3 separate regions of the Homo sapiens genome follow, and regions 1 and 3 are each linked to region 2. The links come from fine-mapping of genetic effects on gene expression. A gene starts in region 2. Each other region holds a variant in brackets. All regions are shown on one strand. Distances are from middle to middle. Region 1 holds the start of LOC107985994 (a long non-coding RNA gene). Region 2 holds the start of PID1 (phosphotyrosine interaction domain containing 1). Region 3 has its middle 36 kb from the start of PID1.

Region 1 (10,187 bases), 140 kb after region 2:
AAAGACTCACATATTTACAAGTTCCCACTGGGCTGATCAATGGGAGCCAAGTGACAAAAAAGACTTTTGGTTGTAGTGGGAAATACGGCCACCACCAAAGTTCAGAGGTGCCTGAAGCCTAGAAAACATTTCCATTAGACCTGAAGTCAAAGAAATCAAATGATTGTCACTGAGTTTCTAGTAATACATTAACATCACTAACATATTAGCACCCAAACTACCACATTTTAAAAACCAGACTGAAAAGCAAATTCTAGGCCAAATATTTAAGCATCTTACCTTTTATTTAAAGTCTTCAACAAAATAAGACTTGATGAAAACACCCAAGATAATAAGCAATTTCAATCTTTTGGGTGTTTGGGGTTTTTGTTTGGATAGATGGCTCTTTTTTGGAGGGCGGGGAGACAATACTTTTTTCCCTTGTTAATTTTCTTTTTCAAATGGTGAGACATTTGGTCCCTTGAGCATCTATTGAGAGTTCTCTGGCAGCAAGACTGGACAAAAGCTAATCTTCACAGAAACCTGATTACGGACAAGCAAGATGGTGTTAAAAGTCCCTGGAGAGCACTTTGGTGACTCACATTTCTATATCGTAAACCTTGCTAATCCCTATATAAAATATATTTGTCATATTGCTCAGCTTGTCATTAGAACTGAACAACTCTGAGCTAAAAACTTTAAACACGGAGAATAGACAATCATGGACACTACTGATGTGCCAAGTTGTATCCACTCAAACCCTCCTCCTCTGGAGGTCCCTAGGCCCCCTCTTCCTGCCCTCCTCACCACTCCCATTCCCAGAAAACATCAAGTCTTGGGCATCCTGTTTCCTCTGAGGAGTCACCTTCTTTCACACCCTTCCCCCAACCTGATCTTCGCATATTTAACTAATCTCTCAATTCCCAATCCAAACACCCTCTCTCTGCAAAGCTGAACCTTGATTTTCTCAACACAGACCACATTCTTCCACCACTGTGCCTTGAGAGCATGCCGGGACTGTCATTGTCACGGAGTTCACTGTGCCAAATCATAACTTATCTGCTCTCCTGTCTGATTCTCCCACAAATCTCTGAAGTCCTGTAGAGCAGAGGCCGTATCATAATGCGTGGAAGAAATTATGGACCTAACACCGGAATCCTATCCTTTCAAGAGGGGCGACAGCCAGTGTACTTTGGCTGACACACAGGTGAGGCTGCCAGAGGAGAGATTCCAAATTCCAAATCTGCCTCAAAAACACCCTATTTTGTCAGAGAAAACCAGGTCCACACTTCAAACTAAGTCTGTGGAATGACACATGCATCACCCATTGGCAGAAGACACAGCACGTACTATTACAAAGCTGATGTTTAGTCTCAAGCAAAAATAAACTGTAATTCAGTCAAAACTAATAAAAATTCATACTTTTCGTATTAAGGGATGGAGAAGAAATGTTTCTAAAAAGACTTTGATTCCAACAGCATTCTTTACAGAAGTTAATTTTAGAATTGAAATAAGCTAGAATTCAAAAAGCAGTACACCAATTATAAGTCTTTGTTGTTGTAACAAATTTAGTTACAATTAATATTTGAAAAATGAAAATCAATATTTTATCTCCAAGAAACGAAGCCAGTAAAGAAGTGTTATTACACTTAATATTTACTTTAAGACATCGTCTCATTTCATCCAAACTTACTTCCTCTATGAAAACTTTTTCCAGTATTTCAATCTTTATAGATCTCAACATTTTCTAAACCATCTCAGAAATTACAATTGACATCTCAGCCTTAGCCTCATTATTCCTGTGTGTGTCACTCAGTCTGCTCGTCTGGTTAAATAACAGCCCAAAGAAGGAAGAAACTCTGACTTATCCTTTTTGTATTTATCACAGTACTTGAAAGGACTAGGTGCACAAAATAACCAGAAATTCTTGTTCCCTGGCTAAGTGGAATCTAGCAAAGGCAATAACTTTATCCAACAAAGAAGGAGTTCTCTTCCTTCCCATTAAAATTTCTGTAGCCTTTAAAAATAAATAAGTAGGTACAGGCCAGGCAGAGTAGCTCACGCCGGTAATCCCAGCACTTTGGGAGGCCAACGCGGGCAGATCACTTGAGGTCAGGAGTTCGAGACCAGCCTGGCCAACATGGTGAAACCCCGTCTCTACTAAAAATACAAAAATTAGCCGGGCATGGTGGCACACACCTGTAATCCCAGCTACTCAGGAGGCCGAGACAGGAGGATTGCTTGAACCAGGGAGACAGAAGTTGCAGTGAGCCAAGATAGCGCCATTGCACTCCAGCCTGGGTGACAGAGCAAGACTCTGTTTCAAAAAAAAAAGTAGGTACAATGTACAATGTAATTAAATCTATAATCCAGTGATCTCATTTCTGAGACTCTATCCCTAGAAAGAAATCTGGAAAGTAGGAAAACAATGTAAAGATATTAATTCCAGAAATATTTGTAATAGCCCCACATCACATGTAACAACAAAGCAATGGATAAGTATTCTCTCATGGGAACATTACAAAGCCATTTAAAATAAAACTAGTAAGACTTCCTAGCAATACATAAATCAAACATAATATCCTATTATGAGTGAGCAGAACAATATAAAATTGTAGGTATACTCAATTATTGAACAGTAAAAACATGGATACTAAAATCAGAATGGAAGCAACACAGATTATTATGGCTCATGTTATGTTGTAAAAACATGAGTAATTATGAATTTTCTCTTTTCTTCTAAATATTTATTATTGTTATATTATTTTCAAAATTAAAAATCGAATTTTTTTTCTAAATTGTATCACCAAAAATTTCAAATATATATATTGTTGATCATTTCATTGGATCTTCTAGAAATAAAAATCAATCACTATGGGGCTGTTCCTTAACCTTTTGACAATATGAGGTATGAACACTTAACAAAGTCTTAGACGTTCCGTCACAAACCAGGCTTGAACTAGTTTTGAAGGACACAGCAGTATTTTGGTTTGTCTGAAGACGGGTTACACAGAGGTCCTCCATGAATTTTGCTTTCTAACAATTCCATAATCTACAGTGAAGACTTACATTCCATGAAAATGTTTAAGTTGGTTTCCTTTACTTAATTCATGTGTTAAACAGTAGTTCTAACTCAAGTAAAGGTAGCCATTGAGCATTTGTTCTGTGCGAGCCACCATAGTAAGAGCTGTAGAGAATTTAAAAAGAAAAAGAGCCTATGTAGTCACTGTCTTTCCAGAGCTTATGATTTAGTATAGGGAAGAAGAAAGTCTGAAACCAAAAAGAATTTAATACAAGGCTAAACATAATTGTCATGGCAAATAGAAAGAAAATAGAGAGTTAAAGGAGGAAGAAGCCACATCTCTTTGGGGGTCAACATTTCAGACAGTGGATACAGCCATAGGAGTGGATGAAAGCAAAGAGGAGGGAGAGAGAAAGGGGCCTGGAGACCCACGTCATTCATGGCATCTGGGAGACCAAGACTTAGTGAGGGCAGAGAGGAGAACCCCGTCAGGAATGAAGTTGCAGAAGACACAGCAAGGCGACGTGCAAGAGGGACCCCAGGGCTCAGTGGGGCAAAGGGACAGGAACGCTGGCTGAGTCAGAAGTGGAAGGGGAGGCTTCATAGATTTCACCAAATGACTTCAATTACTTCACCATGAATTTTCCTGAAACCTCTTTTAGTGGAATGATGTGGACAAGGGCCAAGAGCCATGGTTGAAAAAGCAAAAGGGAAGAAAGGGACTTTAAGCACAGCAGGGACACAAAAAGTCAAAGAAGAGGTTTTTAAAATTATTATTTATATGGAATTTACTTAGAAGTCTAAGAACTTTTTTTTTCTTTAGCAGCCCAGTTTTTCTAGAAGGGCTTATTTGAAAAGAATTCCCTTCTCATTCCTAGCAATTCCTCTCTAAGAGTCTTACATTATTATTATAGACAATGGTTTCTGGGCCATTCTTCAGTTTTGGTTATCTGTCCATTCTTGCTAGGGTAATATATGAATGTAACAATAATTGCAGCATTATAGTGGGTTTTTCAACATCTGGCAGAAGTTCCCCCTCATTGCTTTTCTTTTTCTTTTTCTTCTTCTTTTTTTTTTTTTTTTTTTTTGACGGAGTCTCGCTCTGTCACCCAGGCTGGAATGCAATGGCACGATCTCAGCTCACTGCAATCTCCGCCTCCCGGGTTCAAGTGATTCTCCTGCCTCAGCCCCCTGAGTAGCTGGGACTACAGGCATGTGCCACAGCGCCTGGCTAATTTTTGTATTTTTAGTAGAGATGGGGTTTCACCATGTTAGCCAGGCTGGTCTCGAACTCCTGACCTCATTATCTGCCGGCCTCAGCCTCCCAAAGTGCTAGGATTACAGGTGTGAGCCACCGCCCCCGGCCTTTTTTCCTTTTTCAAAATGTTCTTAGCTATATATTTGGCTGACTCCCTATTGCACTCATTCTTTTTAGGAGGATAAATATATATACATAGAGAGGGTGTTATATATATAGTGTTATATATAGTTATATTATATATATCCTCCTAAAAATATAAAAACTATATATATAGTTTAAAAAATATCAATATTAAGCAGTAAAAATTACCACTTAAAAAGTATATATATAAAGTAAAAAGTTAAAGCTTAACTTTATCCCTAAAATACTACCTATCTAAGTTCTAACTCCAGGTAAGTACTAGTTAGGAATTTAAACCCATCCATCTGACAGTTTCCTGAATGTATACAGACATACGATATGTAAATA[T/C]ATATTGGCAAAAATATTTCCAAAAGGGGGAAAATGTCCATCCCCCCACGGAGAGAAAAGCACAGGATCATGTGGCCTCTCACTTCCCCTCACTCTTCCTCTGGGTGGAAGAGCATGATTAGATCCTCCTGTCTCTCCTTTAATTCCTTCTACCTACCCTCCCCATGTCCCCACCACTCTTAGTTTAGAAGTTCTACCATTTACTGCTACATTACTAGGGTTTACCTCCCTGTTTTCAGCAGCCTTATTTAAACCTAAACCTAAAAGTCTTTATAAATATACTAAAATTAAATAAACACTTTATCTGCCCATTGGATTTGTCACCCAGGCTGGAGTGCAGTGGTGTGATCTCAGCTCACTGCAACGTCTACCTCCCAGGTTCAAGCAGTTCCCGTGCCTCAGCCTCCTGAGTAGCTGAGATTACAGGCACCCGCCACCACACCTGGCTAATTTTCGTATTTTTAGTAGAGACGGGATTTCACTGTCTGGTCTTGAACTCCTGACTTCAGGTGATCTGCCCACTGCAGCTTCCCAAAGTGTTGGGATTACAGGTGCGAGCCACCACACCAAGCCAGGAGTGAAATGTTTAACACACTTGTATGCCTTTCAGTCTTTCCTATCCTCACCCCCTTCAACACATGGCTTTGTTTTAAATAATATGAAACCACTTTACTTGTTGAAATTTTTCCTTAAGAGCAAGAGTGGTGGACACAGCCTAGAGTGACCCCTAGGGAGTCACACCCTTGTGTAATTCCCTCCCTTTGAGTGTGAGCTTCCAACCAAGAGCAAATGGCAGTTAAGACATTTTGAAGATGCAATTAAGGTCCCTAATCAGTTGACTTTGAGTTCCTCCCAGGTGGGCCTGGCCTAACCAGGTGAGACCTTTAAGAGGGTCCAGGCTGGGTGCAGTGGCTCATGTCTGCAATCCCAGCACTTCGGGAGGCCAAGACAGGTGGATCACCTGAGGTCGGGAGTTCAAGACCAGCCTGACCAACATGGAGAAACTTTGTCTCTACTAAAAATCCAAAATCAGCTGGGCATGGTGGTGAATGCCTGTAATCCCAGCTACTCAGGAGGCTGAGGCAGGAGAATCGCTTGAACCCAGGAGGTGGAGGTTGGTGTGAGCCGAGATCACACCATTGCACTCCAGCCTGGGCAATGAGAGTGAAACTCCATCACAAAAAAAAAAAGTCCAGGCCTTCCCGGAAGTTCAAGACTGGAAGCAGTGGGGTCTCTGTCATAGTTGCTAGCTTTCAAAGAGCAAGCTGTCACAAATCCTACAGCCACGAGGATATAAGTTCTGCCAATAACCTAAGGGGACTTGGAAGCTGATTTCTCACTATTCAAGCCTCAGATGAGAGCTCAGTCAGTCAATACCTGGCTTTCACCCTTGTGAGCCCCTGAGCTGGGAATTGACTAAGCCACACCTGGACCTAGGAAACTGTTAGGTAATAAAAGCATGTTGTTTAAGCCAGTACCGGGTACTGATTTGTTATGCAGCAATAGATAGCTGATACAGAAGGCGGATCTACTTTTTTCAAGAGACTTTCCTTCACCATTATATTACCATTCACAATCACATAAATATCAAATATTTAGATTTATGCCTGCATTTAAAGGCATACATCTCTTCCTTCCATTCTCCATCTTCCCCTATCTGGATATCTTTGTTTTGATTTAGTTCCTATTTGGTGGCGATGCTTATTAAGGTACTTATCTTAGGGTATAGGGTGCTATATTTTCTGTATCCTTGAATGTATGGCAATGTCTTTCTTTTGCCCTCAAATATAAACAACAAACTCCTAGTCCTTTTCATTTAAAAGTCTGAAACGCTGCTCTGCTATTCTTTACCTCATGATAGAGAGGGGCAGTACAATGCCGATTTGATTCTCTTTCTTCTGTATGTAACCTGTGATCCCTTCGAAGAATCTTGTAAAAAATTCTCTTTATCCTTGCAGTTACAAATTTTACCAGGAAATCTCAAATTGTGTATCATCTCCTTCATTAATCCCATTACTGCCCTGTGAGCCCATTCTATTTGAAAATAAGACTTTCTTCACCTCACAGACACCTCCTTCTAGGAGTTAGTTAATTCTGCTTCTATTTCCACATGCTCCTTCTTCTGGAGCACCCATCGCTCAGGCAGAAGCAGATCTCTCAAATCTTTTCTCCATGTTTCCTGTCTTTTCACTCGTGGTTTCCACTTCCTCATATTTTGATTCTCTCATGCACTAGTTCCTCCTTTTTATTCAGATCCAAATTCAATTTTGAGTAGTGTACATTACTTTCTTCACTTCCTTTCTTGAGTGTTTAGAGCTGTTGTTGCAATTTTTGTTTTTATTTCCCAAAACTTTTCTCCCTCTCTGAGTTGCTGGCGTGGGCTAGTGTACTGGCCAGGCTAGTGGGTGGAAATCTTGGCAGAGACAGACAACATAACACATTCCCCTTCAGGGATGGATGGGCAGCCAATGGGGCCCTGTGTACTAAGGCATGAGGCAGAGAGAGGCCTCCCAGTTTGGTGTTCTCAAGGCCACAAAAAATGGGGGGGCCAGCTCAGCCTACTGTGCAATTTCCTTAGACAGCAGCCCGTAGCCATGAGATCAGTACACCCCTCTGCCTCCTAGGGTCAGACGCAGCACAATTACAGCATGCACTTCCTCTCTATAAGCTGAAGGATTTTTTTGGACTAATCTGTTCATTGAGTCATCAGTTCTCTCTGGAGCCCTCATCCCCTGTTCTTGTGGTTAAGCAAAGGCTCCCAGCACACATACCCTTTCTTGAGACCCCAAATCTTCAGATGACCCCATTCAGGGTCATCTACCTTATTGAGCCATCCCTAGCAGAGAGTCAGGAGGGATCAGAGATATTGAATGTCAATGTGAGCTGCCATCTTCCTAGAATCTTCATTTGTTCAGAGTAAGAAATCCATGAAAATATTTATACACATGGAAAGGAGCAAGGGGAAAGAAGGAGGTTGAAGATATGTAGAGAGAAAGGTAATAGATAGATAGACTCAGAACTGAGAAGCCTGAGAATGAAGCCAGCACATCTGCTGTTGTGTCCTGGTAGATGTTAGTGGAGTTTGGTTCTAACCGAACGTCATACTCCAACAGAAGCATCAGATCTGTGGAACACAAAGTCAAGACCTGGCCCAGCTTCAGCCCTCTTATCCAGGAGCTTAATCAAGTTTTCAGTGTAGCCTACAAGGCCATGAGACTTGCCAAAAAGGTTACTAAATAAAGGTAGGTTCATCCAAAGAGAAGCAACGGTGAGGGCAATGCAAGGTCTCCAGCCAGGTGGATGGCATCAAGCAAGCAGCAATAGGAGCAAGCGGTTGAATGAAATGGCTATAAATAGAGCCCACAAACGCATTCCAAAATCTAAACCCGGCCCCGTAGTTATGGCTTAGAGAAATGTGTGCAACAGCTGATAAATAGGTTCTCCTGGAACAGGGCCGTCTGAGGATATCTGGGCTCCAGGAAGCCTTGCCATCCACAAAACGTGGCCAGAGGCCAGTGAAGATGCTGGGAAAGGGCTTTAGGAACCACGCTGACCAGGCTTATAGGGGAAGAGCATTACTGTCCACCTCATAGGGTTCTCGGGGGGATTTAGTGAGCTATGCACATTAGGGGTTAGAACGGGGTCCACACATTGGAAACACTCTGTCAATGTCGCCTGTTTTTAATAAGCATTAACTTACTTGCTGATACATGGGACTCCGCCTGCCTCCTCCCCAAGAAAGCACAGCATTCTATCTCTGCATAAGAAGCTTTATAGGACGGCATCCTTCCTCTTCCACAGTTTTCACAGCCATGGTCTCTAACCTATGTCTGACAGTCCATCTTAATATTACTTTTTGTTTTCAGCTTTTTACACATTCAATAAAAAAGAAAGCGAGGATCCACAAAGAACAGGACAGGAAAGGGGGTTGTTTCTCAATCTATCAGGAAGAAACCAGAGACTTGCAAATTGGTCTCCTTGGACCGATTAATCATGCCAGCTTCAGCATTTGATTGTTATTCTGAACAATTCATGGTCCAATTAGAGGTTTATGCATTTACACTGAGAAATACATGACGTCATTTAGAGCCATTCTGGCACAGGAAGGCCAGGCGGCCTCTCACCTTTGTATTCTGCCAGGCACACACACTCATAGCCATTAACGAGGTCCCTGCAGGTGGCTGCATTCAGGCATGGAGCGGAGAGGCACTCATTATATTCCTCCTCACAGTAGAGGCCATGGTAACCTGAGGGACAGAGAGAAAGGCCCACTGTCAAATGCATCCCATTTACAACCCACGCGGGACCAGCCTGCAAGGAAGGCAGTTGGGGGTATTCATTAGAAAGTATGGTATAAACAGATGGGATTTCAGGAGCTAGATCTCTTGGGGTAAAGTTGAAAGGTGGATTTGGGGGAAGGCTATGAAGAAAGCGCCTGTTCTTATCACACTTTTTCATGATCCCAAGTATAAAAGAAGTGATTCCATTTATCCACTGACATTTTCATCATAGTGCATCCAACAGTGCTGGTGTTAGGGTGATCCAGTCACTGAGTGTGTCTGCTGTGGCCATCAGAGATAGTGAATGAGCAGGATTTACGGCAGGGGAGGAGCAAACAGCTCCCTTCAAGAGTGAGAACCTGGCTCGGTGTGGTGGCTCATGCCACCACAAAGTGCTGGTAATCCCAGCACTTTGGGATACCGAGGCAGGTTGATCACTTGAGCTCAGGAGTTCGAGACCAGCCTGGCCAACATGGTGAAACTCTGTCTCTACTAAAAATACAAAAAATTAGCCAGGCGTGGTGGCGGGCGCCTGTAATCCCAGCTACTCAGTAGGCTGAGGCAGGAGAATCACTTGAACCTGGGAGGCAGAGGTTGCAGTGAGCCAAGATTGTACCACTGCACTCCAGCCTGGGCGACAAGAGCAAAACTCCATCTCAAAAAAAAAACAAAAGAAAACAAAAAGTGTGAGAGCCACATTAGAAAAGTATATCTGTATTTCCTTTTCAAGTCAGAAAAGAAAATTAGCTCAAAATGCTTAACTGAAATTATTGATGAAATGTGAGGGTATTTTTGTTGTTATTGCTTGTTTAAAGATATGATTATATAAATTATAATATTTTAAATTGTACCTAAATGTTTAAATTACTAAAGAAATAATCATGTGAGTGAAGAGAAAATAAACCCACAATTTCTTGATAAAGTGGATTTTACCCTCCTATTTGCAAAACAGGTGTTTATTCTAAAGGACAAGAAGACAACATTCTTTGAGATTCATTCATGAGGGTTATGCTGTTTTCAACTTTTGAAAACATGTGTTACTGCCAATTTGCAGTGAAACCAGGCCATTTTTGTCCAGCCCTGTCCAAACAATGAAAAACATGTGAGTGTTTTCAAAAGTCACACTGACTGTGTTCGTTCTGAATTCAGATAAGCAGAAAAAATAAGCCCTTATCCA
Region 2 (10,187 bases):
GGTGAAGTGCTTAAGAAGTAAGGATTGGAACCAAACTGTCTGGTTCAAACTCCAGCTCAGTTCATTTCTAGCTGCTCAACGCTGGCCAAATCACTTCGACTCTCTGGCCTTCAGTTTCTCTCTAAAATGCGGATAAAAGTGGTTACAGGATGCAAATGAGCCAGATAGTTAAAATAAAGCTCCTCGGCACAGTGCCACACACAGTGCCTGCACCACAAAAGCAGGTTACTAGTATCTTCCCATTCTTAATCCTTGCTCCTTTTGTCAATTTGGTCAGCCTGGAAAAGTATCAGATTTGCCGGTTTTCACCCTGCCTGATGGGCCAGGGCTAATGGTCTCCAGTTGACGTTTTAGAGGGTTCTCCAGTCTCACTTCTCAGGGGAAAAGTGAAAGTGGCATCATCATAGAGAAGAAAAATCTAGAACGATCCACACTCCAAGTCAAGACAACATCTACCAGATAGGACAAGGCAGAGAAAGGGTGAGATAATCCTCAGAGGAGGACTTTGGCTCCTAAAATCCCCAAATAGTATTTAGCTGGAAACTTCAACCACTTCATCAACCAAAAGTTTCAGAAGAAACCAAAAGAAAGCTTTTTCAGGATCTGGGGTCCTCCCTACTCTTCACTGTGTTTCTCCCTCTTGTGGAAGTGCTAGTACACAGACATTGGCCACAACGAGGATGAAAAAGGAAGTAATGGATGGAACAGAAAAAATTGCCCAGGCTGCAAAACTCAAATCCAGCTTTGTGAATAAAAAGCTGTTTTTTCTGAATCTGCCATGGAGAAATGGTAATCTCAGTGAAGACAGCTAGATGATTATATTGGAACCTTTATAGAATGCCTCATGAGAAGATGGTTACATGTAAACTTCACAATTAGAATCTGCTAGAACTCATACGCCTATCACATTCCACTCTATCCTAGTAATAACTACACCAAAGACCTTTAAGGATGTGTTGACCTCCTTCGTTTCTAAGTCAGTCTTGATTCATCTTTCTCCTCCTATCAAGGCCTCCAGAAAATGCATCTGGTAGCTCAGTGAAGACATTTGCTCTGAGAAAATACTTGTTCCTATGGATGGGACACAGTCTTGCATGGATGGGTTTGTTACTTCTGAGGGATCCACCCAGTACAATCATCAAGTCAATCCAGAAACTCATACAAATTTTAAAATTTCAAGGCCAGAGGTAATCTCATCTCTATTTCATAAAAACCAGTAGGGTTTTTATTTGTTCAGAAAAGTCTCCTTTACTTTTCTGAAAGGAGTCTGTTTCAAATCTGCTTCTTTAAAAATGTATAACACTCCTCAATACCTCCAAGAAAAAAAAAAAGTCTGCTGTGCAGACGGGAAGGTGAAAAGAGAAGAATTCATATTTATTCACTGTAAAAAGTTGGGGTGGTAAATTAAATCTTCACATCCCTTTTGATCCTATTATATTTTTAATGGCAGAAGCTCCCAGCGAGGGCTCGAGTGGGATGCAATAGAAGTTTTAACATTCAAGGGAGCAGATGAACTTGCCTCGGTTTGTGTGACTGAATGAGAAATTACCCAGCGCAGCTCTGCTCAGGGCAATAGGTCCCTTTGCCTGTGCTGGATTTGGGTCAAACAGCTAAACCTCAAATCAGAAAATATCAGCATCATTTTGTGGGGACACAGAAGTGTGGGTAACAATAATGATAATCAAACCTGATCAAAGATGCCATTTCCTGAGCAACGGAGCCAGTTGCTACACTCAAAAGTCCATTATTTAGAGGGTGACTGTTCTACGCAAAGATCTATCACACTCCCCTGGGACACAGACTTCTCAAACCAGCTTCATCGAATATGAACTATATCATCAAGAAAGGGTCTGGTTATTTTCTTCCATCCCCTCTTTTGATTCTAGGTATTGATAAAATAAATTGACTCCTTAGTCCTATTAGGAAGTTCTGGGAATGTTTCCTTGACGAATTTTCTTCACTCTGGCTCATCTAAATTAGAATGTTTGTATTAAAGATAAATGAGAAAAAAATTAATGAGGTCGAATGAGAAGGTTTATAAAGATTTGTGAAAGGCACATGGAGCTCAGACATCATTAAAGAGCAGAACTCATTCTCAAGTTTCCTATCCAGCATGATATCCACTGCTATCTCTGTGGCCACAGAGCCTGGGAGTGGCAAAGTGGCTTCTCACTGAGGAATCGGACAGGCATGTTTCTATATCACGGTGAAAGGAAAAGAAAAGGAAAAAACCCCAGACAGCAAACAGAGATTGTGACAAAGATAACCACAAGGAATGTAAATAAAATATGATAAGCAGCTCACTCACCATCTCATCCTCAACAGCTCTCTCAGAGGCAAAAGTAAAAACATATAAATTATGTGTTTTCAAGGAGAGTCAAGCAATACTCTTTGGGAAGAAGCCACGGATATAAAAAAATTTTTCCGCATTTGTCTCACTTCTCTAATCTCAAGGCTTGAGATGTATGTACTTTCAAAAGAGACTCATCGAAATTTGGGCAGCATGAAGTTGAGCCCCCTGTTGGTAAGGACCTTCCAACAGTGACTCGGTCTTATTGGTGATAAGCCCTGTTTATATGAGCTTTCAAAAGCCTAAAAACAGGTTCTTTCAACATGACACCTTGAAATAAAATAAACGCATTGCAAACACCAACTGCAATAAACCAGGCTCACGCCAAAATGCACACGTGCACATTTCACAAAATAAGGGGGAGACATTTCTAGTGAGGAGCAATCTCTATGGGAAGGCAAGCGAGAGCGCCCACCTGCCAAGGGTCACATGCTCCAGAGCGCACAGGATTCCCTAAGTGAAACAGGCCGGTAGGAAGAACTTGAATAGTCAAAAATCTACAAACTCTTCAGAGGTACAGATCATCAGGCCATAAAAGCCACCTCAAGGAATTTTGGTCACATCTCTCTAAGGACTTCCAAAAGCTACCCTCTGCACTTGAACAGGAAACCTGCCAGCTCCCCTCAATCATTCTGCTCCTTTGGAATAGAAGTTACGCCTTTAACCGAAGGAGAACTTCAAATGCGCCACTGGTATCTGGTGCCACTGCCAAAATATATTTACATCACCTTCTATCAGTCATTCAGAGCCCAGTGCTGATATTCTCTTAGTAAGACAAGGAGGGGGTTAGGAGGTTGGTCATCCACCTCCTCATCTGCAAGGCTAAATGCAGGTTTTCTTGTTTATTCTACTTGAGACCCTGGGGAACTGGTCTGGTGTCTCAGGCTCTGATAAATTGAACACACTCCCCGCAAATCATGGCCCAGGGAGCTTTGGAAAGGAGCTGTGGGGCATCTGTTTCTGCTAAATGCAATGCCCTCTGCGGGTTGTTCCTCTGTATGAGGACTCCTAGACAAAGGTTAGCCTCTCCCTGCATCTGAGAAACTGTGCTTGGGGCTGTAAATGTTCATTGAGAAGCCTCCAACCTAGCCAGGGCCTGGCCTCATTGTCCTAAGTCTTCAGATGCACTCAGCCTCCAATGGTGCTGTATTTTACCAGTTAAACACGTCTTCAAAGTTTACTACGAAACAATGTGGCTCCTAGCTTGCCAAAAGTTTAACTGCAGGATTCAGTGGATTTTATCTGGCAGAGTAGCTGCCGTGACTCTTGACAATATTTGCCAGCAAAAGGCAGTCCTCAAACCTTGCAACCAGGGCAATCCCAAGGCCCAACGTGTCACTGAAGGAGTTCTTCTGGGAAAGGTCCCTCTTTCTCTTCAATCGCCTCCCGCAAATCCCCAGCTTCCAGAATCCAATTCAAGGCAGTCTGGCATTTCAGGAGACAGCAGTAAAAAACTTTTGATGGGATAACCCAGGACATAAATATTCCTGGCTGAACCTACTTTTGATTCTTAAATATCTGAAGGAGCTTGGGTTTAAGGAAGATAAAGGGAGAGAACCAATGAATAGGGAAAAATAAAATAAGTAGCATACCATGACCAAGCCAAACCAAGCTTGATATTTCCACATTATATTGGCAAATGGATGCTTTCACATATCACTTGTTCTGTCTTTCCTGGTGACCACAAAAAAAAAAAAAAAAAAAAAAAAATCTGGCTTCAAAAATCCTAACCCCAGACCACTGCATTGTGTCAGTGGAATGCAATCTAAATTGCCAGTCAGAAAGTCCAACCTTATATGTACCAACCAACACGCACACAAGCACCTCCAAGCCAAAAGTTGTAACGCCTGAACCCGTGCGTTTATCAATTTCATCATCCCCATACCCCTGCCGGGTTCCTGGCGCTGGGTAAACCGACAGCATCATGTTGCCATCGATGCGTCTTACAAGATGGTTTTGGGCAAATCCCCTAAAGTAGGCAGAAGCAAAAACTAGGTTCCTCTGCCCGGGCACCTCCTCCTCCAGGCTGGCCCCCGGCTCCCGGGTGCCCCTTACCTGCAGGCGCTCCGTGGCCGGCTGCCACATCTTCCAGCCCTGGGTTTTGGCAGAGGAGACGCTGGCGAGACTGTCGATCGCGCCGGGGGGCGAGGGGCTGGGGTCCCGCTTTACATCTGGGGTCGGTGTCCGCGGGATGTGCGTCCTGGCGCTGGCCACCGCCGCCGGGTGGGCGTAGGGGGCTGCGAGCAGGAGGAGGCGCGGCGCTCAGCTGCCGGCAACTTGTGGGCACGGCCGCGCGCCGGCTGTCCTGGCGCAGCTGCGAGAGGACTGCGCAGCTCCGCCCGGGCCCGGCGAGCGCGCGGCGGCGGCGGGGGCGGCCGCTCCCTCCTCCCCCGCCGCCGCCGCCCGGACCTGCGCGCTCTGAGCATGCCCGGGGCGGGCGCCCAGGGGCCGCGCGGGGCGGGAGTGCAGCGCGGCCGACTCTAAATCCTAGTGAGGGGTGAATGGGGAGGCTAGAACAGCCGGCCCTTCCCTGCAGGAAGCCCCCATTGGGTTGGGGTCTGGGAAAAGGGACAGACTGGCTGAGGGGGGAAGGGCCTGGAGCCGGGGGTGGTGGGGGCAGCGGGGATGTCGGGGGTGGCGGGGGTGGGGGAAATTCCTAAAATAAGGAAACCGTAGCCCCGGGGGTCCCGGGTTTCCATATAACAGGCATCTCTGAAGTGCCTGTGCTGTGCCTGGCGCTGTGCTAGGGAGACACTTCCATTCATTCTTCCCACTCCAGTTAACTGAGCATCTATTAGGCTCCAGCCCCTATGCTGGGTTCTGAGGATGCAGCGACGCAGAATAGAAGACAAGAGAATGTTCCTTCTCTCTGGAGCTTACCTTCTGCTTTGGAGAGAGAGTCGTGACTGAGCAAACACATCAACAAGCCGGTGCTATATCGGGTGGTGATAAAACAGGGCAGATGTGGGAAGAAGGGGAGAGGAGAGCTTCTTAGACAAGGGCCCTGGGGAATGCCTGGAGTAAGACCTGAGAGATGAGAGGGATTGGCCACGAAGAGGCCATGCTTCATGATGGGGAGAGGACTCGACTCCTAACCTATACAGGGGTGAGGAGGGCCATGCAGACTCCCGAATCACTAACTCATCCTGAGATCTGCCAGGTGCAGCAGGAGGCTCTCAGAACCCAAGGGAAAGCCGCTCTGGGCTCGCAGGCCTGGAGGCTCCCCGGCTAGTGCCGGCCACCATGAGATGACTTCCTGTCCTAAACAGGCCAGCCCTTCCCATTCTCTTGACAACTCGGCAAAATAACTATTAATATTTTCACCATGTGGATCAAACAAATGAGGCTTATAAGGTTTAGGTCACTTGTCCAGGTCACACAGCCAGTGAGTGGCTTAGAGAGTGCACAGTCAGATGACTTCAGGGCAGGAGATGTGGCCCTGCGCCTCTAACTGACCATGGAAACCCAGTGGAAAGAGCATCCGTCTAGGGCTGGGGGTTAAAGGCACTTGGCAAGTCAGGGATACTAAGCTGATTCTCGAGCTGATGAAGAGTGGGAGAGGAGAACATGGTGGGAAGAACTCAGGACATAGAATGACCAAAGAGAGGAGCAGAGAGAACACAATGTTTGTGGGGAGCCCTAGGCTCCTACAAGGCAGGGTCCTGAGAGCAGAGGGGTGTGAAAGAGAGGCATTTCATACTGAGACAGCTGCACAGCTTGGGCCGTGAGCTACTCATGCAATGTCAAAATCCACACTCCATGTCTGGAAGGAGGATCTGTCCATTTTCCTTGTTCTGCATGACTACAATGATTTCCAGATATGGAACCACTCCAGAATCTAACCCTCAGCTCATCGGACCCTCGCAGCAACTCTCCGTGGGACAGAAGCCCCTATCTCCCAAGGCTTGGGGAGCACAGGGTTCACAGAGTCACACTGTGGGGAGTTACAATGGCGATTCAGATCCAGGATTCCAGGCAGATCCTTCTGGACCCTGCGGTTGCTATGTTGGTGCCACCAGCCTTGGCAAGCCCAGGACCCTCAGTGCCTCTAGGAGCCTCTGGCAAAGCCACAGAGCTGCCTCTGAAGAGCTTGTCTCTGTCTCCCTGGATATCCACAGGACCCTCCCACTCCTGCCTGATAACCACCTGAACCTTCTCAGCTCCTTCTCCAGTTCCTGCTACTTGTTCTGAACTTATTAATAAATCTCTTTTCATGAGGTGTTTGCCTGTCAGCCCGCACAGACATGTGCCTCACATGCTTGGTGATATGGTCTCTGTTTGCTTTTCCGGTAACTCCTCCTGCACACCTCCACACCTACAAAATTCCTTATGACCTTCCCAGCCCCCAGTTCTCTTTTATCAAATCCCAAAGTAGAAAGAAATGCAATTCATTACAAAAATCTAGAAAATCCAGACATGCATATAAACCCCACCCCCCAACCCCCCCAGGAAGCTAAAACAGGAATATTCAGTTGCCAGGGATGTCTTCAGACTTAAGCTCTGAAACCATCCTTGCTTGCAGATGCTTCCGTGGAAAAGTGATTTTGTTTTAAATAGCAGTGGAATGAGTTAACGGCCTAAATTCAAATCGCATTAGAGCGTTAAATCCTGTCTTCTCACCTCCAAACGTAATTAATTGTTATGACTCAGTAATACAGCTTTTAGTACGGAGTATGGTGCTATTTAAAGAGAAAAAGCTTTGGCTCTGTAAAGATTGCTTTCAGTTACCGTTCCCACTTTGCAAACAGATTTGGTAAAGTAAAGAATGTATTTAAACTCAAATGGCACTCCTGTTTCAATTACCTTTATGCCACGAATCAGGAAGCTAGGGGAGGGGGTGGAGGAGGGGCAATTGCAGGCTTGTGGGAGGTGACAAAAGGATGGGACAACCTCCCACTCATAGATTTTGCTCCCAAGTCTTCCCATTCAGGAGGAGCCTGCAATGAAGGGTGAATGAAATAGAGACATCTGCTGGCTAGAGATGAGACCTGCATGCCAATGTCTCCCAGCTCTGTTCTGTGACATTGGAACCTCATCCTTCCTGGTGAATCTGAAAATGCTGCCTTACGATGTAAACAGGTTTGTTCTGAGCAAGAAACCACCCTTAAAATGAGCAGAAGGTGTTTTGGTGCAATGAGTAGAAATATTAGGCATGTAAATGTGTGCCTAATTTCATGTACTTAGTCTCCTGCAATTACCGAAACAGGTCTAATCTTGTCAATAAATACCATTTGAAGGCAAATGACAGAAATCAAAAAAGCTTGACAAGGCACAGATGCGTTATTCACACATTTGGTTCAGAAAAATAATTACAGCATCCCTAGAAATTGTGTTAAGCCAGATTTGATCTAGTTCATGGTTCTGAGCCCTAGCATAAGCAACCTCAATGTCCAAGTCAGAGTAATGGTGAATGAAAGTATGGTCCAGCATATCAAAGAAATATTAAAATATTATGCAGCATTTAAAAGGATAATTATAAAGTTGTGTTGCAGCTGAAAATGATACAATTATGGTTTTTAAAGTAGGATAAAATGTATATAATTTGAATATATGTATAAAATATTTATCAATCTCAGTAAATGTTGGAAAGGAGCTAGGACAAGCAGAAGACTCAGGTTGAATCCCAGCCTTCGAACTGTCTACCTAGGTATCAGCTTTTCACAAGTCATTTGCCTTGCTGAACCTCAGATTTCTCTTCTATAAAATGGGTGATAATATTACTTAATACTTAGGATTTTGGGGAGGAGTGAATGAATTAATATGTGCAGCATGCCTGACACATGGTAGGTGTGTGGGAAACATTCGTTTTCATCCCCATTATGTTTCTTTCTCTTTTTATTATTGGAATGATCCAATTCTCACAAAGCGGCCCATGCTTCTTGTGGTTACACTATTTCCATTTGGAATATTTGTGGGTTTCAATTATTTGCTTTAGATTCTCAAATAAAAATGACAAAGGATATTCAAGCTCACTTACGATTCTTTTTTCTTTTTTGAGATGGGATCTCACGCTATCGCCCAGGCTGGAGTGCAGTGGCGCGATCTCGGCTCACTGCAACCTCAACCTCCCAGACTCAAAGCAATCCTTCCACCTCAGCCTCCTGAATAGCTGGGACTACAGGTTTGTGCCACCACACCCAGCTAATTAAAAAAAAAATTTATGGAGATAGAGTATTGCTGTGTTTCCCAGGCTCCCTGGGCTAAAGTAATTCACTTGCCTTGGCCTCCCAGAACGCTAGGATTACAGGCATGAGCCACCATACCTGGCCCACTTACAATTCTAACTTAAGCAGATGACAGCAAAATTTATTATGGTTGTGTATTTAGCAGAATTATCATTAAAAAGCCCTTGTTATGGTATCACTAACCTTATTTCAAAATCACCAAAACAGCTGTATATAAATGAGCAATATAAAAAAGTCTGAAAATTCATTCGACCATTTAAACCTCCCAGTAGTGACAGAACCACTGGCTTTCGTCCCTACAGAGTGATAGGAATGTATTGGGATGTTAAGATGACGCTTAACAGGGTAGGACTGGCTCATTCGTGTGTTGTGACTCTCCTACTCTTGACTCCTCATATCCTCACAAACCTTAGACACCTGATAGATTATTTTCAGAAATGCCCACAAAAATCTCCCCTCCCCAAGGAAGTCATGCCCATTTGCACTGTAACTTGCCTGCTTCTCTCATCATGAGATGCAATCTGTCCACATTCCTTGAATCTGTGCTGGACTTGTGGCATACTTGACCAATAAAATGCAGCAGATGTGACACTGTGGAACTTCTGAGCTTGGGCCACAAAACACTTTGCAGCTTCTGCTCTCACCCTTTTGGAACATAAGTCATCCTATGAAGGAGCCTGGACTAGACTCCTCAAGATGAGAACAACACAGAGGGAGGTCAGACCATGAGTTAGCACCCACAGCCAGATATGTGAGTAAGGTCATCTCATAACACCCAGCTCAAGCCACTACACGACAGCAGCCACATGGGTGATCCCATGTGGGTCCCACCAGTGGAAGAACCACCCAGCTGAGACCTGCCAACTGCTGACCCACAGAATCATGAGTACATAACAAGGTTGGGTTTTATCCCTTAAGTTTTGGGTGGTTTGTTAGGTAATAATAGAAAACTGATAGAGAAAACATCACTAATAAGTGTCTGTCTTTCCCGCTAAACACACCCTTCTCAACATTTCCTAACAACCAATTGATCAGGGTTAGCAGTAAAATGAAGCCTAATAGTCTAACATAAAAACTTATTTCCTCTTTTGGTTTTATTTCTGCTCTCACAATTCCCTCATACACACCTCCATCCTAGTCTCAGATTGTGTGGGCCCTGTATCCAAGTCCCATCTGTTAAATTTTCTAGTAAGTCCCTCTGAAAAGAAGATGGGAATTGGGCTGGGCGCCAGCCATATAATGATTAAGATGAATTTATTTTCTGGCACAATTTGCAATAAACATGAACATATCTGCTCTTTTACAGCCCTTCTCACCCTCTCAGCGACACTGTCTCTAGACAGCTATCTGCCCATCATTTTGGATGGGTAAATACAGCTCCTCTTTCACTTAGAGCCTGGGGGAATTGAGAGTGAAATGGAGAGTGGTGTTTAGATTTGCCTTCACCACATTTAGCCCAGAAAGGGGCAACTCTGCACTATTAATGTTCTCTGTGGTTTCTAAGGGTCCTTGTCCTCATCTGTATTCGTGATGAAATGATTAGCTCTATGATCCCAAATACATTCTCATGGGGACTTGTGTGAAGCCACACCTTATGCTATCTTCCCACTTCATCCTTTCTCCATCTGAGCTGACTTCACACAAAAACCAAT
Region 3 (10,187 bases), 36 kb after region 2:
CAGCTGGTAGAAGAGAAAGTGGAGCAGTGTCAGAAGGATAGGGTCACCTGTGCTAGATGCCTAAGAGTTGGGGATGTTGACTGATATCACCAAACCTACAAATGTTCTACAACTGTGGAGAAATTTACTGGGGTTTCCTTGTCCTGTAGGCACGTGCTAAATCACAAGAAAAATTAGAGATCAAAAATGAATGTTTAGTTTCTTTGGAATACAGGTGAACTCTAACCCAGCATGTGAACAACTCTGGCTTAAGACTGTGGAGACAAAGGGCTGAGGCAATCATGTAAGGCACTGATGTCCATGGATGTAAGATGTTTTCCCATGTGGCCTGTTCATGCCCCCACACCACAGACTGTCCCTGCAGCAATGGCCTAGGACTGTACTCATCAGCCACTGTGGACGAGGAAATTCCAAACAGCGGACCCTCATGCTCATTAAAGTGCTAAGAAGAAAGCTGACGGATTACAGGTGTGCAGACAGTAAACGCTCCGTAAACCAAAAATGCTAGTGCTACAAACAACTAACATTACTCTATACAAGGAATTTTGTCTCTTCATCAGATGAAAAGGATGAAGGTGGAATTGGAGGTTAGTTTCACTGAAAATAGATAACTTAATTGCCGCCATGACTCTTGCATAGATTGACTAGAAGAAATAAGTTTCCAAGTCCAAAATTTTTACTTCATTCTAAGTATGGTCCAAATGCGTCATATGCTGGCCATAACTCAACACATTTTAATTAATGGATAAGACCAATCAACAGCTGATATAGGTAGGATATTAAACTGCTGGGAAAGTCTTAGCAAAATGCCACAGGCTGTGTGGCTAAAACAACAGAAATATTTTCTCACAGTTTGGAAGCCCAAGATCAAGGTGTCAGCAAATTTGGTTTCTCCCGAGGCCTCTCTCCTTGGCTTAATGGATAGCCACCTTCTCATTCTGACCTCACACAGACTTTCCTCTGTGTGTATGCATCTCTGGTATCTCTCTGTATGATCTAATCTCCTCTTTTTAAAACAATGTTAATGTTTTTTAATTTTCAGTGTTAATATTTATTATTATGTGTTGAACCGATATATTATTACATTATTTCTCTATTTCTCTACCTATTATTTTTGACTTGCTTATCATAACATCATAAATTTTTAAAATTAATTTTTGGCATACAAAAAGCTGTAAATAATTAATATACAACTTGATAAATTTGGAGCTAAGTATACGTTTATCTTATGAACCCAACACCACAATGTATCCATAAACCTATCCATCATCTCCAAAAGTTTCCTCCTACCTCTTATTTATTTATTTATTTATTTTTGAGAATGATCTAGTTCTGTAATCCCAGCACTTTGGGAGGCTGAGGCGGGCCGATCACGTGAGGTCAGGAGTTGAAGATCAGCCTGGCCTATAGGGAGAAACCCCGTCTCTACTAAAAATACAAAAATTAGCCAGGCGTGGTGGTGGGCGTCTGTAATCCCAGCTACTTGGGAGGCCGAGGCAGGAAAATCACTTGAACCTGGGAGGCAGAGATTGCAGTGAGCTGAGATTGTACCACTACCTCTTATTTATTATTATCATTATTTTATGTGTGATAAGAACACTTAACATAAGATCTACCCCCTTAGCAAATTTTTAAGTATACAATACAGTATGATTAACTATAGGTATATTGCTGTACAATAGATCTTTAGAACATATTTGTCTTGTGTAATTGAAGTTCTGTACCCCTAGACTGTATCTCCCCCAACTCCAGCCCCTGGAAGCTATCATTCCATTCCCTGCTTCTATGAATTTGACTATTTTGGATTCATCATATTAGTGGTATCATATAATATTTGTCCTCCTGTGTCTGGCTTGCTTCACTGAGCATAACATCCTTCAGATTAATCTATGTTGTCTCAAGTGGCAGGATTTCCCTCTGTTTTAAGGCTAAAAAATATTCCATTGTGAATGTACCACATTTTCTTTATCCGTTCATCTCTTGATGAACATTTAGGTTGCTCCCGTGTCTTAGCTATTGTGATTCATGCTGCAATGCACATGGGAGGACAGATATCTCTTCAAGATCCTAATTTCAATTCTTTTAGATATATATCCAGAAGTGGGATCAACAGATCATACGGTAGTTCTATTTTTAGTTTTTGAGGAAGACTCACAGTAGCTGCACCAATTTACCTTCTCACTACAGTGTACACAGATTCCCTTTTCTCCAGACCCTCATCAACAACAAATAAGGAGATCAAATCAGTAATTTAAAAAAAAAAAAACCTTCCAACAAAGCAAAGCCCAGGACCAGATGGTTTTACAGGTGAATTCTACCAAACATTTAAGGAAGAATTAATACGAATCATCCCAAAACTCTTCCAAAAATAGAAGAAGGAACACTTCCAAACTTTTTCTATGAGGCCAGCATCACCCTGATACCAAAGCCAAAAATACCACAGGAAAAGAAAACCACAGGCCAAGATCCCCAATAAACAGGGATAAAAAAATCCTAAAGAAAACCTTAAAACTGAATTCAACAGCATATTTAATACAAATTATATGCCATGATCCAGTGGGATTTATCCCTGGGATGCAAGGATGATTCAACATATGCAAATCAATGAATGTGGTATACGACATAATAGAATGAAGGATAAAAATTACATTATTATCTCAGTAGATGCATAAAAATCATTCGACCAAATTTAACTCCCTTTTAAAAATACTCAACAAATTAGATATAGAAGGAATCTAGCTCAACACAATAAAGGTCATATATGAAGAGCTCATAACTAACATTACCCAATAGTGAAAAAGTGAAAGCTTTTCCTTTAAGATCAGGAAAAAGATAAAGAGACCTACATTTGCCACTTCTCTTCAACATGGTTCTAGAAGTCCTAGTCAGTTAGGACTTTCAGGGCCAATTAGGCAAGAAAAATACATAAAAGGCATTCAAATTGAAAAGGAAGAAGTAATTATCTCTGTTTGCAGACCACATGATCTTATATCTAGAAAACCCTAACAACTCTACAAAAAAGTTGTTAGAAGCCATACATAAATTCAGAAAATTTGCAGGATACAAAGTCAATATACAAAACTCAGTTGCATTTCTATACACTAACAATGAATTATCTGAAAAGAAAATATGTTTTAAATTCCATTTACAATAGCATCCAAAAAATAAAATACTTGGGAACAAACTTAACTAAGGATGTGCAAGACTTGCATACTGAAAAATATAAAACATTGATGAAATTAAGTAAAGTAGACACAAATATGTACATGGGAATACATCCATGTTCATGGATTGGAAGAATTCAAATTGTTGAAATGTACTTACCCAAAGCAGTCTACAGATGTAATGCAATTTCTATCAAAATCCCAATGGCATTTTGTACAGAAATAAAATAACATTATCCTAAAATTTATATGGAACCACGAAAAACCCAAAATAGCCAGAGCAATTTCAAACAAGCACAAAGCTGAAGGCATACACTTGCTGGTTTCAAAATAGATTTTAGAGCTACAGGGATTAAAATAGTATGGTACTGACATTAAAAAGACATATAGACCAATGGAACAGAATAGAGAATCCAGAAATAAACCCATGCATATATGATCAACTGATCTTTGACAAGGGTTCTAAGAATACACAATGGGAAAGTGTGGTCTCTTCAATGGGAAAACTAGGTATTTACACACAAAAGAAAAAAACTGGACCCCTCTCTTACACTACTCACAAAATTTAACTCAAAGTGGATTAAAGACTTAAACATAAGACCTGAAACTATAAGACTCCTAGAAGACAACATAGAGAAAAAGCTTCTGGATGTGTCCTTGGCAATGACTTCTTGAATATGACACCAAAAACACAGGCAATAAAAGCAAAAACAGAGAAGTGGGAGTACATCAAACTAAAAGGCCTCTGCATAGCAATAGAAATAATCAACAAAATTAAAAAGCAGCCTTCAGAATGGGAAAAAGTATTTCCAAGCCATATATCTGGTAAAAAGTTAATACTCAAAATATATGAGGAATTCCTGACCTAATTTTCTTACATAGACACCAGATTGGATTAGGACCCACCCTATCAGCCTACTTTTAACTCAATTACCCTTTAAAGGCTTTATTTCCAAATTCAGTCACAGTTTGAGGTACAGGGCATTAAGAACTCAAACACGAATTTGGAAGCATGCAATTAAGTCCATAACAGGTAGCAAGGAAAAATTATAAAATGAATGAATGTCACAATTTTCCTATGAAAGTGAATTGAATCCTAATGTAATTCCTCCTATTTTGATTGTTACTAGCTGTATTCATTTC[T/C]TGTAGCTTCCTTAGCAAAATGCCACAAACTGGTTGGCTTAGAACAACAGAAATCTATTTCCTCACAGCTCTAGAGGCCAGAAGCCCCAAATCAAGGTATCAGCAGTCCATACTTTCCCTGACAATGATAGGAAAGGATCTGTTCCAGGCCTGCCTCCAAGATTCTAGAAGGCTTAGGCATTCCTTGATTTCTGGATGGGCATTTTCTTCCTGTGTCTCTTAGAAGGCATTCCTCCTGTGTACATGTCTGTGTCCACATTTTCCCATTTTATAATGACATTAGAATTAGGGGCTTATCCTACTCCCATATGAACTCATCTTAAATAATTATATCTGCAATGACCCTATTTCCAAATAAGGTCCCATTCTGGGCGACCGGAAGTTAAACTTCATTATGTGAATATTGAAAAGGACAAAATTCAACCCATACACCATACAAAATGTTAAAAGAATTCAATGTCATAGACTAAAATCAAGAAGCCTGAACTCTAAACAGACTTTTACCCCTTCTCCCCCACTCACTCCTACCAAAAACAACCAACAACAACAACAACAAAAAAAAAAAAAAAAAAAACAAGAAAAAGAAGAAATGAAGAAGAAATAGTCTGAACTATCATTCATGGATCAATCAGGTCCGAATCCCTTAGCCAAAATTAGTTTACTATGTTTGAAGTTTACATAATTGCATAATTCATGAATTTCCTAAGTCATCTCCTTGCTGGAAACATTAATGTGGTATCTGATTATACTAAACAGGTAAATGGTTCACATGAGAAATATGAGAAATTCTGTGGCTCTTGTGATCTATCACTGACCAACGAGTTGGTTTCTCCTGAAGTCCAGAGAATCTTTATTCATTATAGAAATCAAGTCAAATAAAAACCAATTTTTTCAGTGAACTTAGAGCTCTGCATAGGTAAATTCTTCTCTGTCTTGGGCTAAGCACACTAAAACATATTCTTTTTTTTTTTTTTTTTTTTTTTTTTTTTTTTTGAGACAGAGTCTTGCTCTGCTGCCCAGGCTGGAATGCAGTGGCTCGATCTTGGCTCAACTGCAAGCTCCGCCTCCAGGGTTCACGCCATTCTCCTGCCTCAGCCTCCCGAGTAGCTGGGACTACAGGCGCCTGCCACCACGCCCGGCTAATTTTTTGTATTTTTTTAGCAGAGACGGGGTTTCACCGTGTTAGCCAGGATGGTCTCGATCTCCTGACCTTGTGATCCGCCTACTTCGGCCTCCCAAAGTGCTGGGATTACAGGCGTGAGACACCGCACCTGGCCAAAATATATTCTTTAAAAGCATTGTATTTAAGCTTTACAATCTTTATTTTGAACATCTGAAAGGCAGAAAGAAAAGGTGTTTGAATTGGTTCCCATTTGGATAAAGTAGCTTAAGCAAAATAACAACCATCTAATTTTTAATAGCTGTCAATGGCTCTTCAGGGTGGCTCTTGAGGATTGTATGTAACTTGGCTTCATAGTTATTTTTAGTCACTGTGACCCCATTTCCCCCTAGATTTTACCCTCTAGAATCAGACCTAATTCAATGCCTAAAATACCTGTGCTAAGAAACACAGAAAACAAAGAAGCAAAATTTTAATCATCCTAATAAAAGATGAAAGAATTCGGCTGGGCGTGGTGGCTCATGCCTGTAATCCCAGCACTTTGGGAGGCCAAGGTGGGCGGATCACGAGGTCAGGAGATCGAGACCATCCTGGCTAACATGGTGAAACCCCTTCTCTACTTCAAAAAAAAAAAAATACAAAAAATTAGCCGGGCGTGGTGGTGGGTGCCTGTAGTCCCAGCTACTCGGGAGGCTGAGGAAGGAGAATGGTGTGAAGCCAGGAGGCGGAGCTTGCAGTGAGCCAAGATGCGCCACTACACTCCAGCCTCGCAACAGAGAGAGACTCCGTCTCAAAAAAAAAAAAAAAAAGATGAAAGAATTCAAAAATATACATTCTCTGACTCAGCAAAATAAATAGAGTAGATAATCAGAAATGACGCCCTACAAGATGGAAATCCAAACAGACACGGGGGAGAAACTTTCAAGGCCATCTGGCCTGGCTTGGATTATAATTCACCCAAGACATGTTAAGATTAAGGGAATAAAGAAGACAATATTAATCATCGGAAATGAAACAAAGAGCCTATATTATCTATTTACTTATAAAATTTTTGTAAAGGGTGTAAAACATCAACTTTGGAAGTTACTTTCTATATATTTAACTTTGACTTGCTATTTTAAAAGGTGTATCTGTAGATTCATTATATTAGTAAATACTCACACATAGGAAAGTGGAAATCTTTTTTTTTTTTTTTTTTTTTTTTTTTTGAGAAAGCATCTCACTCTGTCACCCAGGCTCAGCTCACTGCAACCTCCACCTCCTGGGTTCAAGCGGTTCTCCTGCTCCAGCCTCCTGAGTAGCTGGGATTATAGGCATGTGCCACCGTGCCCGGCTAATATTTGTATTTTTAGTGGAGACAGGGTTTTGCCATGTTGTCCAGGCTGGTCTCCAACTCCTAACCTCAGGTGATCTGCCTGCCTCGGCCTCCCAAAGTGTTGGGATTACAGGATTGAGCCATCGCGCCCGGCCAGGAAACTGGAATTCTGACTGATGTTTAAACTTTGGGCAGTGCCTCCAAATTACATTGATAGAGAAAGAAAGCACCCAGATTAAATGTCACATATAGGATAGTTTTGTGACAAACTTCTAAATTCTACAAACAAATGTACACAGACACAAAAAATCACATATTGACAAATGAGTGTGATGGTGATGGTTTATATGTCACTTGGACTTTGTTACTTTTCTGTTAAGTCAGAAAGGGCTTCCTAGAAGGTAGAGCAGAAATAGGGACAAGGTGGCATGAGTAAGTGAGCCCTCTGGCCCTTCAACATTCATCAGCTTAAACCAAATTCAGATAATTCTCACTACTGTTTGCCTCTGTACACATATGCACACAGCGTATGTGATCCTTAAGTGTGATGGTGGGAAGGGCTGAATCAAACATACCTAAGACATCTTTTCATGAGATTTTACCCGTTAACTATTGGAAAAACAAGGATCCACTTTTCTGTGTGTGTGTGTGTGTGTGTGTGTATGTGTGTGTGTCTGTGTGGTGTGTGTGTGTGTGTGTGTGTGTGTGTGTGTGGTTTTTTGTTGTTGTTGTTGTTGTTGCTGTGATACTTCAACATGTCTTTCCTCAGATATATAAAGTTTGTGCGTTATGGTTAAATGCTGAAATTGCTCTTTCACTAACAAATCCTCCTAGAAATTTTATATTATTGACTTGATATGACAAATATCAAGCCATTTCTTCTTCTTATGTCAACATAAACTTTTGAAAGTTTATAGAGTTATTGTTATTGGTACAGATTTTTCATCTTCATTGCAGCATCATAGCACACAAGTGCCTCTATTTGATTCTTCTGCTAAATGTGCCTTTACTAAAATTAATTTCAATAAATTGATGCTTTGAGAACCTCTGATCAATGACTGTTTTAAGTATATAGCAATGAAATCAGAAGATTAAACAAGGTGATTCTTGATCAACTTGATGAGGGCAAGAGGAAGCGTAGCAAATCCAGCAAACAAATATGTGCATGGAAAAGACCCCAGGTGAGTCTTTAAGCCATAGAAATTACACTTAATTTTTGTGATTTTTCTTACATAGATACTTGTCTGTGGTACCCAGCCCTGTAGAGAAGGGTTTTGCTAAAGTCTTTGTTACAGGGGGAGGGGAAAAAAGAAAGGAATTCCATCAAGCAATAAAATTTGCAGAACTTAAAAATATTTTTTACATTTACCCCAAGGATTATGAAAGCAGCAGAATTGTGAATGCCAATTGGGGAAGTGACTAGACAATTGGCTTTCTTCCCCCACCAAAAAGAGAAATAACCGATTATTCATACATGCAGTCAGATCAGATTATCTGCCTTGCTTTCTTTTCTTTTCTTTTTTTTTTTTTTTTTTTTTTTTTTTTTTTTTTTTTTTTTGAGACAGAGTCTCTCTCTGTCATGCAGTGGCACCATCTTCCGCCTCCTGGGTTCAAGTGATTCTTCTGCCTCAGCCTCCCAAGTAGCTGGGATTACAGGAATGTGCCACCATGCCCAGCTAATATTTGTATTTTTAGTAGAGATGAGGTTTCACCTTGTTGGCCAGGCTGGTCTTGAACTCCTAACCTCAGGTGATCCATCCACCTTGGTCTCCCAAAGTGCTGAGATTACAGGTGTGAGCCATCATGCCCAGCCTGCCTTCCCTTCTAATTTTTCTGTGGTTCTGGCTCCTCCAGGACCCAGCATAGAGTTCACCAATCACACTGACTAGGGTTAGAGGTCACTGGGTAAAGCATAGTATGGAGGTTGCATTACAAACTAATAGTGGGAATGAAATTGAGCTAGGCCAGGGTCTTTTGCACGGTAAGCCTATACACCCAGAACAATCAACACATGGAGTCTTGGTTGACTGCACTATCAGATAAATAAAGAAGGGTTGGCCAGAAGTCAACAGGTCACAGCCATAAAAGTTCTTGGGTCTTTTCTCCTACCGCTTAAGCCATCACAGATCGATGGGATGCTGTACTCAAATCTCTTCCTGACACATGTGTTGATGGGGCCATGAAGTGTGGCTGCCCTGCCTTCACCACAGTGGTCATCAGTGACTACACATTTATAGACCAAAGACTCAATAAATAGATGTTGAATAAAGAAAGCAGAATTTCAACTGAACAGTGGATAACGGGCTAAAAGGGAAACAGTCCTCAAAGTTAGTAACATTTTCAATAAAAAGGCAAAATAACACCTGTACTGACTATAAAATATGACACAGATTCATAAAGCCACACTAAGAAGTATGTTATGTTTTTTTTTTCTTCTTATCAGAACTTTTGAGCCCAGGGAAGAAGGGAGATATACCTTCTTCTCATTACTCCTTAGCCATACCATCCCTGCTATATCTTACCTCATTCTCAACACTGTTTCGGGTTCTGAGAGGCAGAGGGAGGAAAAGATGAACTTCAAGAAGCAGAAAGTAAAAAAGAAAGTGGAAAGAAATGTGGAAAGGACAATTCTACCAGCCAGTGTTCAAGGAAGCAAAACTTAAAGTGTTTAAAAGGCTTAAAGAATGTGCTTAAAGCATTTAAAGAAAAAGAATCACTCCCTTTTTTTCTCCTTATTTTATTTCATTTTTTGAGACAGAGTCTAGATCTGTCACCCAGGCTGGAGTGGAGTGGCATGATCTCGGCTCACTGCAACCTCCACTTGCCAGGTTCAAGTGATTCTCATGCCTCAGCCTCCTGAGTAGGTGGGATTACAGGCACACGCCACCACGCCTGGCTATTTTTCTTGTATTTTTGGTAAAGACAGGGTTTTGCCATGTTGGCGAGGCTGATCTGGAACTCCTGTTGCATATATAAACAACAGCAAGTGTGCACGCTCACACCCTCCCCTCATCTAACCCGGTTTCCCTTTCTGGCTACCACTCTTATTATTCTCCTCATTCCTCTCCCATTATTCCAATGTGCAAGTGATCCCCACCAGCTCCATTTCTCCAAACCTCTTACCTCTGTGGCTTTGGCAGTCAGACTTCCCTCCATTTCTCCCCCAGAAGTTGTATTTGCCTATGTCACTGGTGATCCAGCTTTTGCTGAATCTAACCGAAATACTTTAGATCCTCAATCCTGTTTGACACCATGGCAGCACTTAGCACTGTTGATATTAACTCCTTCTGAAAGTTGTGCTCATCTTTGTCCCCCTGTGATACTAGCTTTCCTGGTTCACCTCCTGCTGTCCTCTTCTCCATGTCTTTTGCAGGCTTTCTTTATTCTAACCACAACTCTCTTGGTTTCTCTTAGACCCTAATTCTCAGCTCTCTTCTTCATTTAC

What was found. PIP is the estimated chance that this variant, and not a neighbour inherited with it, causes the effect. A credible set is the group of variants that fine-mapping cannot tell apart.
Region 1: its variant is the best candidate, but not a certain one, in a credible set for the expression of PID1 in whole blood (TOPMed, PIP 0.56).
Region 3: its variant is the best candidate, but not a certain one, in a credible set for the expression of PID1 in whole blood (INTERVAL, PIP 0.60).

What each region holds. Positions count from the first base shown.
Region 1 is chr2:229,409,254-229,419,440 of GRCh38, forward strand. DNER (delta/notch like EGF repeat containing) reads right to left here. Exons shown (of 13, transcript NM_139072.4): 9 at 8,855-8,977. LOC107985994 (a long non-coding RNA gene) reads right to left here and starts at 1,997. Exons shown (of 3, transcript XR_001739917.2): 1 at 958-1,997; 2 at 280-522. RefSeq lists a silencer at 4,063-4,281. The variant T/C (reference allele first, on the strand shown) is at 4,731.
Region 2 is chr2:229,266,609-229,276,795 of GRCh38, forward strand. PID1 (phosphotyrosine interaction domain containing 1) reads right to left here and starts at 4,679. Exons shown (of 3, transcript NM_001100818.2): 1 at 4,406-4,679. The coding sequence starts at 4,435.
Region 3 is chr2:229,302,455-229,312,641 of GRCh38, forward strand. No RefSeq gene overlaps it. Among named protein-coding and RNA genes, the nearest start is that of PID1, 36 kb to the left of the region's middle. The variant T/C (reference allele first, on the strand shown) is at 4,308.